3 separate regions of the Homo sapiens genome follow, and all the other regions are linked to region 3. The links come from fine-mapping of genetic effects on gene expression. A gene starts in region 3. Each other region holds a variant in brackets. All regions are shown on one strand. Distances are from middle to middle. Region 1 overlaps BTD (biotinidase). Region 2 overlaps BTD (biotinidase). Region 3 holds the start of BTD (biotinidase).

Region 1 (4,210 bases), 47 kb before region 3:
GAGAGGGGCAGATGAAGCCTAGAAGTCATGGCCATTGTTGCAACTACACGAGAGTCTGTCTGTGGGAGAAAATGATAAAGAAGAGTGCAGAGTAGAGTGTGATACTGTGTCCAGAGACACCATTTGAGCCCCTAGATTCAGCAATGGCTGAAGAGAATTTATTCTTAGACTCCCCAGTTACGAGTTAATATATTCTTTTTTTTTTTTGCTCAAACAAAAAGAAAAAGATGAAGAGAATGAGAAGGAAAATGAGAAGAAAAGTTATCTACAAAAAATTATATATGCATGATGCCTAGAGTTCATATATTGGTAATTTCATTTTTAACGGTGCAGCTGTTATTCAGATTTTTGTTTTACTTCAGTACTGAACACAAAAATAAAAAAACTTTCCAAACGGAAATAATGTTTCGTTGTGTTTTTTCTCAGCCTGTCTGAGAAACATTCTAAACATTCTTTGTGACTACCTATTCATTCATTCATTCATTCAGCAGTCAGCAAGCATAGAGCAGATTTTGTAAGCCAAGACAGTGCCATGCTGAACGCTGCAGAGACAAAAGATGAATAGGACACTGGCTCTGGTCTTAGAGGGTGGGTCTCCGTGGAGTCACGATAAAGATGCAAATCCAAGACTCAGCACATATTTGCATGTGGGCAATTCATTAATATCTCTCTGTCAGTTTTCCCCATCTGTAAAATAGCTGTAGCAAACCTTCTTTAGGGCTCATGGCAGTTAAGGGAGACCATTTATGTGCATCCAGCACAGAGCTGTCACTCACTACTAGGTGGCTACTCTAGGCATGGCTCATGTTCCGGCAGAGGGAACTCAGATAAATAGTTCAATGAGAAAGGGCTCTGTGAACTGGGAATGGGAAACACCAGTTCAAAAAGTGGAAGAGTCACAAGCTGTGATGAGAGAGTAGACCTTGAAGGATGGATGAGTGTTCATCAGAAGACGCCATTTCAAGCAGACAACAGTACAGGGGCCAGACTGTGCTCAGCACACTGGAGGAGCTTAAAGAAGTAGCTATGGCTGGACCAGAAACCCAGGTTCACAGTAAGGGCCATCATGTGAGCTCAGAGGTCAGGCGGAGCTGAGGCTGTGCAGAATGTGAACTTTGGCCTGAGGAACAGCAACTGTTGGGAGGTGAGAAACGGGAGAGCTGTGATTTGGATTGAGCAGAGTGGCAGCCCACCTGCAGGATGGTACCCAATGAGGTTCACCTCTGGGCATCTAACACCCTCTGTCTCTTTCCATAGGGAGCAGGGCTGACCTGTGTAACTCAATAAGATGGTGCCAAATGATGCAGTGTGACTTCTGAGACTAGTTAATAAAAGACATCATGGCTCCACCTGTGCTCTCTTGGATCATTTGCTTCAGGGGAAGCCAGGGGCCACATCATGAGGACACTCAGCTATCCCTATGGAAAGACCCAAGTGGTGAGGAGCTGAGACCTTTTGCTAGCAGCCAGCACCAACGTGCCAGCTGTGTGAATGGGCCATTTTGCAAGTGATCCTCTGTATTTGTTTCCTAGGTCTGCCATATCAAAGTACCCTGAACTGGGTGGCTTCAAACAACAGAAACTTATTGTCTCATAGTTGTGGAAGCTGGAAATCCAAAATCAAGGTGTTGGCAGAGCCATGCTTCTTCTGAAACCTGCAGGGGTGGGTTGTGTGTGGGGAGTTGTTTCTTGCCTCTTCTAATTTCTGGTGTTTGTTGGCAAGCAATTTCTGGTGTGCCTTGTCTAGTAGAGGCATCCCTGTGATCTCTGCCCCTGTTGTCACATGGTCATCTTCTCCCTGTGTGTGTGTCTTCTCCTCTTCTGATAAGGACATGTCATATTGGATTAAGGGCCCAGTTACTCTAGTGTGATCTCATTTTAACTTATATCTTCATTGCATCTGCAAAGACCCTATTTCCAAATAAGGCCACATTCTGAGCTATTGGGGGTTAGGACTACAACGTATCTTTTTTGGGGAAGACGCAATTTAATCAATAATATTCTCCAAATCCAGTGAGGCCTTCAACCGGCTGCAGCCTTGGTTGATATCTTCACTGTCACCTCGGCTGACATCTTGACTGTAGCCTCATGAGAGACCCGCTTTCCTGCCCCACAGAACTGGGTGAA[C/T]TAACAATGTCCATGCTTGTTTTATGCCATTAAGTTTTGGGGCACTTTGTTATGTGGGAATAGGTAACTAACATTCAAAGGGAGGTTAGGGAATGAAAGACTGAAGCCAGGAGACCAGGACCTTTCTCTGGCCTGAGAAGGAACATGGCCTCCCAAGCAGTCCCACTCACAGATCTTCAGGCCACATCAGCTCTTGTCTCAAATCTAGGCCTTTGTGCACAAAACATTTCATACTTTTATGCCTATTTTGTCCTATATAAATCCACTTTGTTGAGAAATTGTTCTTTGAGTGGTCATTTCACTTGAGCGGTTCTGAGTTTCATTGAGAATCAAGAGCGGCCGACTCACCATCGGTCCTCTCTGAGGAGATCTTCTGTGCAGGGACACCTCCTGGGCTACTAGCCAGTGCTCTGATTGGCTGGCCTTGGGCTGGGTGCCTCCTCCTGGTTCAATATACCATGGCTGGGGGGTGGGGGCACAGGTACCAAGCAGGGCCACCTGTGGGGAAAAGTGGCCTGGGTGGGTTTCCCTCAGCAGGGGCTCTGGACAGGCCTGTGTCTTGAGAGCAGACATGGTGGGCTCTGGGACTTGGCAGTCTGTGAGGAGGCCTGGTTTTTTCCTCTCTAAGAACAGGGCTTTTAAATCCAGTGTGAATACAGCTCACTGTGCCTCTCACTTCCCGTGTGAGAAAAACCACAGAAAAGCACAGCTGCACCTACATGAGAAACCACGCAAACCAAGCCACTTCCCCCAAGTCTGGTTTAGCCAAAAATGCATTTGATTTCCTGTCTCCATGTTGTGGTCAAGATTGCCATTTGCTTCCTGAGTTTCAGGATCACAATCGACAAAAACATAATCACAACCATTAGTCATAGATATATTTTTTCCCTGAAAATGATTTATTTTCCCGTCCTCTACTTTGTTCTGTCATCTGGCAGCTACTTCTTTTAATTGTAAAAATTACTTTGTTCTACCACCATTAGTTGCTTTTCCCCTCATTTCTACTTCACGAGCAATTCATTCTAAATTGTTGGTAGAAAATAACTCAGGGAAAGTTCGTGGTGCTCTGCCCAGAAGGGCAGAATGAGGATCCTGCAGGTGCTGATTAGATGTTTACTGGGTGAAGTAGTTCTGCCAAGTCTGTATTTAGCGCTGGCCTCTCTTTCTCAGGCTTATTTGAATCATCTTGGCATAAGGCAATGATATGCATTTTTAGGTAATTTCTGTCTCCCTGGGGTTTGAGGCAGGGAAGCAGACTGGGCGGTGGGTAGCCACATCTGGGGCCGCTTCTGGACTGCCAGCTCACGCCTGGTGGGAGCTGCGCTGGGCGAGAAAGCGAACTCCGTCATCTGGTGGGAGAGGTCCTGCTCCCCTTCCAGAGGGACTTCCTAGGGCGTGGGGAACCCAAGGCTTGCTCAGGAATTCCAAGTCCTTGCTGCTTATTCCCTGAAGACTTGACTCATCCCAGACCTTTCCGAGGGATCAGTGAGTCAGCAGGGGCTGGTGCTGGCTCTGCTTTTTCCCACATGGTTTATTCAACATGCATTCTATGAATAAAAAACCGAGGCCCAAGGTCTCCCCAGTGAGGAGTTAATGGTGAGGCCATGCATGGAAACCCCATCAGTCTGACTGCAGAATCCACATTGTTAATTGTCCTGCCTAAAAGCCAGAAAAGGATCTGGAGGCCTACACCGTGGGGGAATAGGGAGATCATTTCATTTTTCTTGCTTTATAAAATCGTGTGATGTTTAAGCATATACTGTTTAAAATAACTAAAAAGGAGTTCAAACTAAATGGCCACATTTAAGAGGCAAATCACTGAAGACTAATTATCCATTCTGTACTTAAAAAATGATCTGAAACAGCTACTAGGCATGCAGTCAAAATCCTTTTTTAAATGGCTTTGAAATATTGGACACAAATTACACAGAAATCAGTGGCCTAAAAATGTCTTCACCATATTGAGTCTGATAATTTTGCATCTGGAATTCCTAACATGGGAAGCTCCTGCTCTGTGCCTGTTGGGTGATTGAATAAATGCATGACTAAAGTGGGCCACCCTTCATGCCCTTCACGGCAGTCCC
Region 2 (4,243 bases), 53 kb before region 3:
CCCGCATGAGCTGGGGTCAGACTGCGCAATCTGAGCTGACCTGACTGGCTACTTGGAAATATTTTTCTAAATATGGAGGGGAAGGGGACGTGAGGTACAGTGGTGAAGTGTGTGAGACATGCAGTTTGAGGGGAACAATGGGTGCAGGTAACCAAGGCAACAGATGTGAGGTATTGATTAGAACTGATGGGAAGGGGGTAGGCTATTTTACAATAACTAGGGGCAAGGAGGAACAGAAAAGTTGAGGTTTGAAAACAAAGGTCAAGGAAGTTAGCAGGCTAAATCTTTAAAGAGAAACTCAGAGAAATTCATTGTATCTTACATCTATAATAATAACAAAGTAGGCTGGGTGCAGTGGCTCATGCCTGTAATCCCAGCACTTTGGGAGGCCGAGGTGGGTGGATCACTTGAGGTCAGGAGTTTGAGACCAGCCTGGCCAACATGGTGAAACCTTGTCTCTACTAAAAATACAAAAATTAGCCAGACATGGTGGCAGGAGCCTGTAATCCCAGCTACATGGGAGGCTGAGGCAGGAGAATTGCTTGAACCCGGGACGCAGAGGTTGCAGTGAGCCGAGATCATGCCACTGCACTCCAGCCTGGGCAACAGAGTGAGACTCTGTCTCAAAAACAAAACAAAGTAAAAACAACAAAGTATTCTCTGTCATACATGAATACTGTTTCGTTTCTTATTTACTATTAGAAAAAGCATAATTTACAACTAGAAAACAATGAGAGTCTCCAAGGATATTTGAGCTGAAATCATCTCATGTAGTCCCCTCTTTTACAGAGAGAGGACCTTAGGCCTTGAGAGGCACAGGTACATGGCTGAGGTCACACAACAATTTAAAAGCAAGCCAGGCCTGGTCTCTGGGCTCCCAAGCCAGCGCATTCAAAATCTGGGTTTATTTTTTCACTTCTTATTTTTTATGTAAATTTGTAGGAATAAATCTGTTTTGTGACATATGTCCCTTTTACTATTCAATATACACTGCACCAAGGAAAGATCTGAAACAATTTTCAGGGGCCAGTAGAACACAAGGGCCACATTTTGTGGTATTAATTGCAAAACAATGAAGTTCTTCACCCTTTTCAGATTCATTTATAAATGCCAAAATACTGGCTTTTATTATAAGTATCTTTATATTCCATCAACCTAATAATTTTCCTTACATACGTCAAACTCCCAGCATGCTTCAACCCCTAATATGCAGCAATTTAGAGGATATGCACATTATAATTCAGAGGACACAGCCTTCTTTGTTCCTCTAATAGTTACTAAACAATTTGGATTGCAACCATTCTTTGAAGATGTGCGTGTTTACTGAAAACAAAGCCTTTCTGTTGTGCATGAATGTAGGGGCTTTTCCTCCTGTGGCTTTGACGTGTCTGATGTCTTTTAAAAACTGATGCAGGCCGGGCGCGGTGGCTCATGCCTATAATCCCAGCACTTTGGGAGGCCAAGGCGGGCAGATCATCTGAGGTCAGTAGTTTGAGACCAGCCTGACCAACATGAAGAAACCCCGTCTCTACTAAAATACAAAATTAGCCGGGTATGGTGGCGCATGCCTGTAATCCCAGCTACATGGGAGGCTGAGGCAGGAGAATTGCTTGAACCCGGGACGCAGAGGTTGCAGTGAGCCAAGATCATGCCATTGTACTCCAGCTTGGGCAACAAGTGCAAAATTCCATCTAAAAAAAAAAAAAATTAGCCAAGTGTGGTGGCAGATGCCTGTAATCCCAGTTATTCAGGAGGCTGAGGAAGGAGAATCGCTTGAACCCGGGAGGCAGAGGGTGCAGTGAGCCAAGATTGCCACAGAGTGAGACTTCATCTCAAAAACAAAAAAAAGGATGCAGGACTATATTAGAAAATGTTAAGCTTAACATGAATAATTCCAAAGAAATGTTTTGGTTTTTGTCCCTTAAACTGCTATTATAGATTTTTTAATTGTTATTTTTCCCTTAAATAGCTATTTATTACATTCCCCTCAGTGAGTCCTCATGGCTTGGATATGAGGTGTGACTGACTTAGGAGGAGGTGAAGCATCTGAAAACCTGTCATCAGCCAGAAGAATCATTTTAAATGACCATGTTATTCCCCTGCCTAATCCCCTGCAATGCTGTCTGCCCACATAAACCCTAACTCTTCCCCCAGCCTGCAGAGCCTGCAGAACCAGCCAATGCCCTCTCCCCTGACTCCATGCTCCTTCCCTCCCCTTCACTTGCCCCAGTGCCCAATGTTGCCTTACTGGCCTTTTACATTTTTAAACTTGTTAGTTCTTCAAATACTGTTGTAGCCATTTGGAAAAATAAAATCTGCACAAATATCTTTTAGCAATTTGTTTTGGGGGTTGTGTGTGTATTTAAATCCCATGTTTATATGAACACTAGGTGATAATAAGCTCTCGCTAAAGGTAACAGTCTTGGCCGGGCGCAGTGGCTCAC[G/A]CCTGTAATCCCAACACTTTGGGAGGCCAAAGCAGGCAGATCACTTGAGATTCAGCCTGGCCAATATGGAGAAACCCTGTCTCTATTTTAAAAAATAAATTTTAAAAAACAGTAACAGTCTTATGTGACTTTGCATCCTCCACAATTTCTAGCACAGTATTTTACACGGAACTAATGCTTAACTTTCACACGTGATTTTTTGAGAGTTGCAAGACATCCATAGTCGGATCAACAATTTTTAAAGAATTAGAACACCCCCAAAGTTATACCTTATCTTACAAATCACATTATACATAATTACATCTTTCTTTAATTATCAAAGAATCACTTTAGAACATTAGAGTTCTTCCAGATCACTGAATAGGAATTTCAACCATTACATTCCAGTACTTAGAGAAAATGTAAATATAATTGCCTTTAGTCAAACAAAACAAAAATAATATATTTGGATGATGAACAAGTCACCCAGAAAGGGCTGAAAATTAGCATGACAGGGAGAGAAAACATTTCTGGGTTGGCGACGTTGAAACACTGGCTGTGCATTAGTCCAGGTGTGGGAATTCCAGCCTCGTCCTATGTTGCTGGGATTCTGTTTAGTCTCAGGCAAGGACTTGCCTTCCAGGCCTTAGTTCCTTCTTCTGTAAAATGGACACACTTGCCTGTTTCAGAGGACTGAGGTGATGATTAAGACCCGTGCACCTGCTTTGGTATGCACCGCATTAGACAGTGGGCTCACACTTGATTAGGATCGGAATCACCTGGAGGACTTGTTAAACACAGATTGATGGGCCCTACTCCCAGAGAGTCCGATTAAGTTGATCTGGGGTGGAGCCCAAGAATTTGCATTTCCAACAATTTCCCAGGTGCTACTGGTGCTGCTGCCTGGAGCCCACCTTTCGAGAGCCCCTGGTCTGCACCATACCAGGCTGTTGGATAACTCTGTCTGGGGTGGATTAGACAAAATTCTGCGGGCAGGAGGTTTTCCTGGCCACTGTCAGAATACCTCCTCTAGAACTTCCGATTTCAAAGCAAACAAGTTTGTTCAGCATGGACCCTTCTTTTTGTTGTTCTCCCTCTATCTGAGAACATCTCCCTGTTGCATTTTGCTATTCAAAACCAGAAGAAAAGAGAGTAGATGTAGATGATTTCTGGCTTTGTGTAACCCAACAAATAATAGCCACTAATAGCACTTGATATATATATAGTGGGAGAGATACCTGTATAGGAGCAGTCAGGATAGCTGGGAGATTGAGTGTTGGATGAATTTTAACTTGGATGTGGGAGATTAAGGTGCTGGTAGCAAGACTATTGTATTAGTTTTCTATTGCTGTATAATAAATTACCTCAAAACCTAGGATTTTAAAACAACACACATTTATATTTTATAGTTTCTGAGACTTAGGAAATCAAGAGTGACTTTGTGGGGTGGTTCCGGCTCAGGGTCTCTCATGAGGTTGCAGTCGTTTCCCAGGGCAGTGGTCATCTGGAAGCTTGACTGCAGCTGGAGGACCCACTTCCAACATGGCTCGCTCATGCAGCTAGCTGGTGGCTGTTCCTTGCCAAATGGGTCTGTCCATAGGGATCCTTGGGAGATGGCAACTGGCTTTCCCCAGAGGGAGGGACCCAAGATAGCAAGTGAGCAACCAAGATAGAAGCTGCAGTATCTTTTTTTTTTGGAGACGGAGTGTCGCTCTGTTGCCCAGACTGGAGTGCAGTGGTGCTATCTCAGCTCATTGTAACCTCCGCCTCCCGGGTTCAAGCGATTCTTCTGCCTCAGCCTCCCGACTAGCTGGGACTAC
Region 3 (4,243 bases):
CCAGATTTTGAACTTGCATGGGGGCTTTAGCCCCTTTGTCTTGACCAATTTCTCCCATTTGGAACGGGTATATTTACCTCACTCCCGTGCACCCATTGTATCTAGGAAGTAACTATCTTGCTTTTATTTATTTATTTTTAAATTTAATTTTATTATTTTTTTTGAGACGGAGTCTCGATCTGTCCCCCAGGCTGGAGTGCAGTGGCCCAATCTCAGCTCACTGCAAGCTCTGCCTCCCGGGTTCACACCATTCTCCTGCCTCAGCCTCCTGAGTAGCTGGGATTACAGGCGCCTGCCACCATGCCCGCCTAATTTTTTGTATTTTTAGTAGAGATAGGGTTTCACCGTGTTGACCAGGATGGTCTCCATCTCTTGACCTCATGATCCGCCCGCCTCGGCCTCCCAAAGTGCTGGGATTACAGGTGTGAGCCACTGCGCCCAGCCACTAGCTTGCTTTTGATTTTACAGGCTCATAGGCGGAAGGGACTTGCCTTGTCTCAGATGAAACTCTGGACTGTGGACTTTCGAGTTAATGCTGAAATGAGTTAAGACTTTGGGGGACTGTTGGGAAGGCATGATTGGTTTTGAAATGTGAGGATATGATATTTGGGAGGGGCCAGGGGCAGAACAGTTTGGCTGTGTCCTCATCCAAATCTCATCTTGAATTATAGCTCCCATAATCCCCACATGTGGTGAGAGGGACCCAGTGGGAAGTAACTGAATCATGGGGAGGGGATTTTTCCCATGCTGTTCTAATGATAGTAAGTCTCATGAGATCTGATGGTTTTATAAAGGGCAGTTCCCCTGCACACGCTCTCTTGCCTGCCACCATGTAAGACATGCCTTTGCTCCTCCTTCACCTTCTGCCATGATTGTGAGGCCTCCGTAGCCATTTGGAACTGTGAGACCATTAAACCTCTTTTTCTTTATAAATTACCCAGTTTTGGGTATTTCTTTATAGCAGTATGAAAATGGACTAACACCGTCCACATATGCAGGGAGGCAACCACTTCACTCTCCTCTGCTTGGGGTGGGGTTGAGGGGTTGAGAAAAAGAGGGGAAGACCTTTTGAAAAGACCCAGGACTACAGTTTGAAAATGTCTGGGTTTAGAAATCGTTTCACTTCCAGTGCTTCTCACTCATTTCACTACCCATGACCCACTCCCCTCTCATCTCTTTACTGTCCACTTATCACTGTTCTTTTTGCTTAAAATGACTCCAAATCCTCAAAAAATTAAAAGTTCCACTGTTTATTACAATTGGAAATTTTATGTTTATTGTCACTGAGCAGAGGGTCTAATGACTCCAAGGCAGTAGTTTCAGATATTGCACATTGCAAACGATTTTCACACAAAAATGTTTTAAAAGGCTATCGGGTGCAGGGCTGGTTGTAGGTAGGGACCCAACCTAAGAATTATGAAACGCCATAGTTCCTAATTTTGGAAAGATATTAGCGGAGAGTAATATGGATTAGTAGCAAGGGCTGGAGAAAACAGTGCTCTATACTACCTTCAAGGTGCTCTTTTCATCGCTTGTGACCCAATGGCTGAATAGTGGGTAGGAAACAGGATTCAGGATCTCAGGCACGGTCTGGATCTACTGACTCTGAGCGTCATTTTATCTCTTGCTGGGGTACACATCTGCTTCTGGATTTAAGTAACGTGCGCTACAATAATTTAAGGACTATAAAACCACAAGGTTATGAGAGCGTAAACCACAAAGCGTGTAAGTAAATGCCTAGAAAACGCAACGCGGTAGCACAGCAGCAACGCACAAACAGCCCCAGCAAACGACGCGCGCCGGGCTTCCCAGCTCCCGGCAGCCTTTGCGCAGCCCTCCCCAAGTCCAACTGGGCGCCCGGGGCGGGGTCTGGACCGCACGCCCTTACCACACCCCCTCCGCGCCGCACCACGCCCCCTCCGTACCTGCTCTTAGCGCGCCTTCCGCCCTGAATATGCGCATGCGCCATTCTCCCTTTACAGCCCCGAAAACGCTCCAGCTGGCCGACTCGGAGACAATGGCGAGAGGCCTCAGAGTTCGGCTTCTTACCTGCTTTGCATAGGCAGCAATCTCCTGCTAGTCCCGCCTCCCTCTGGCATTCTGGCGCGCGAATGGAGGAGCCGAGAAGAGAGCGCAGTTCTGATTGGAGAACGCGCGTGTTTACATTCTCACCTCTCCCGGGAAGTGGACGAATTTAGACCGCCTCTTCCTTCCCGTTGTTTAAGGCAGTTGGTTGCCCTCCTGTCCGTCAGAGGTGCAGTACCAGAGGTGGCGTGCTGCCGATTTCGCGTTTGCCTTGCTGGATGATTCCGCTTGTTTGCCGGCTGCGTGAGTGCTTAGAGCTTTTCGGTGGAAGATGCCGGACAGTAACTTCGCAGAGCGCAGCGAGGAGCAGGTGTCTGGTGCTAAAGTCATCGCTCAGGCCCTGAAAACGCAAGTACGATGGACCTTCCTGGAATGAAAGGCTCCTACGGAAGCTGGCGGGGACCGCGATGTTGTCTTGGAGACGAGTAGAAATGGGCGATGGGGGTCGGGGGGTTTTCCTTTTAGCGCCCGGGAGGGAGGGAAGGATGTGGCGATATGGTGGGGCCTTGGGAGTTTACTCCCCTGTTCTTCGTTCCTCAGGATGTGGAGTACATATTTGGCATCGTAGGCATCCCAGTGACCGAAATCGCCATTGCTGCCCAGCAGCTAGGCATCAAGTACATCGGGATGAGGAATGAGCAAGCGGTGAGTATGGACTCAGGTGGCTGAATGCGTTACTGGGAATGATCAGTAATAGCGGTAGGTATGCATTGCAAACACCCAGATAGCGCTTACCACTCTTCTGCTACTTTACATATATCATATCAATCACTGTTGAATATTAACTGTTGTTACACCAAGTTGACAGATGAGAAAAGACACAGGTTAAGTAAAACTTGCCTTTGGTGACACAGCTGGTAGTAGCAGAGCCAGGGTTTGAACCCACGTATTCTGGGTCTGAGTCCATTCTCTTACTACTATACTGTATGTCATGATTGGAATGGACAGTTTATGAGTAAAGTCTGACTTCCCTATTAGGCTACAAGCTCCATTAGAGCAGGGATATTATTTCTTCACGACACATCTGTACCCCCAGTGCTTAGTGTGGTGCCTGCATAAGAAAGGTGTTCAGAGATTACCTGTGGGATAAATGAGTGAAGGCCAAGGCTTTGTTGTATGATTGGTTCGGGGCAGGGTGGAGGATATCACAAATGGTAGTGCCTTGATGGAAACTCAGATGGCTCAGATCCTAGCCTGATGCTTTTTCCACCACATCATGCTGCCACCTTTCTTAGAGGCTTATTTGGAAGCAGGATAAGGAAGATACGACGTTTTGTCAATCCACTTTAAGTGCATCCTCTGCCAATCCACCTTGCTCTTCTCTCAGTAGTGCGGGCTTGAAAGGTCAAGAATCCACTTCTGTGATATCACATACTCTCAGTCCAGCTGAGGCTAAATATTCCTGCTTTACACTCCCACCGTTGCCTTCTAATTTAAATTCTTGCCTCCTCTTGCCCAAACAACTGCCTGGCCACCCTAAGTGGTGCCTTTTGCCATCATACATGAGTGCCTGGAGGGCAGAAGTTGTGATTCATTTGTTATATCACCACAGTGCCTGGCTTGGTTTGTGCTTTCACGTGGTGTAGATGCTTAATATTATACATTATTTATTAATTGAATGACATTCTTTATTGAATGACATTCTTTATTGAATGACATTCTTTATCTACAAGGTTTGAGATTTGTATTTTTTAATCTTAAAACTAGGAGGTTTTGAGTTTCTGTTGCTTCTACATTTTACTTGTCTTTGTTAGAACAACATTCTGTTCTTTCATCTGTGTGAAAAAATGAAGCTATTGACCTATGAATGGAACCTATACTTAACTGTTTTTGTAGAGATGACATATCTGCCACTGATTTCTTCATACAGCAAACATTTATTGACTAAGTACTGTATACTAAGGATTGTGCTACATAACCTGTAGGAGAGAGGGATGTAAAGAAGGAGTGAGGTTTAGTCTTGATCTTCACGTTGATCAGTCCTGGAAGGTGAGGGTAAGACTTACAGAAAAAGACTCATCTATTATAACTCTCACAATAGATGTAGTAGCACAGAAGGGGTGACTGGTTCTCTTTGAGGACAGAGAAGATTGCCTGTAGAGGTAATGTTAGTTCATGTGGTTCCCTCAAGGTAGGTAAAGGCATGGTGAGCTGTGAG

The links. PIP is the estimated chance that this variant, and not a neighbour inherited with it, causes the effect. A credible set is the group of variants that fine-mapping cannot tell apart.
Region 1: its variant is the best candidate, but not a certain one, in a credible set for the expression of BTD in whole blood (TOPMed, PIP 0.70).
Region 2: its variant is the best candidate, but not a certain one, in a credible set for the expression of BTD in whole blood (INTERVAL, PIP 0.89).

The regions. Positions count from the first base shown.
Region 1 is chr3:15,646,435-15,650,644 of GRCh38, reverse strand. It overlaps BTD (biotinidase), which reads right to left. Exons shown (of 4, transcript NM_001370658.1): 4 at 1-4,210. Among named protein-coding and RNA genes, the nearest start is that of BTD, 47 kb to the right of the region's middle. RefSeq lists a silencer at 2,709-3,003 and an enhancer at 3,430-3,963. The variant C/T (reference allele first, on the strand shown) is at 2,127.
Region 2 is chr3:15,652,203-15,656,445 of GRCh38, reverse strand. BTD (biotinidase) reads right to left here. Exons shown (of 4, transcript NM_001370658.1): 4 at 2,732-4,243. Among named protein-coding and RNA genes, the nearest start is that of MIR3134, 43 kb to the left of the region's middle. The variant G/A (reference allele first, on the strand shown) is at 2,445.
Region 3 is chr3:15,599,577-15,603,819 of GRCh38, reverse strand. It overlaps BTD (biotinidase), which reads right to left and starts at 2,075. Exons shown (of 4, transcript NM_001370658.1): 1 at 1,926-2,075. It overlaps HACL1 (2-hydroxyacyl-CoA lyase 1), which reads left to right and starts at 2,251. Exons shown (of 17, transcript NM_012260.4): 1 at 2,251-2,437; 2 at 2,626-2,730. The coding sequence starts at 2,357. RefSeq lists a silencer at 1,803-1,862 and an enhancer at 1,704-2,346.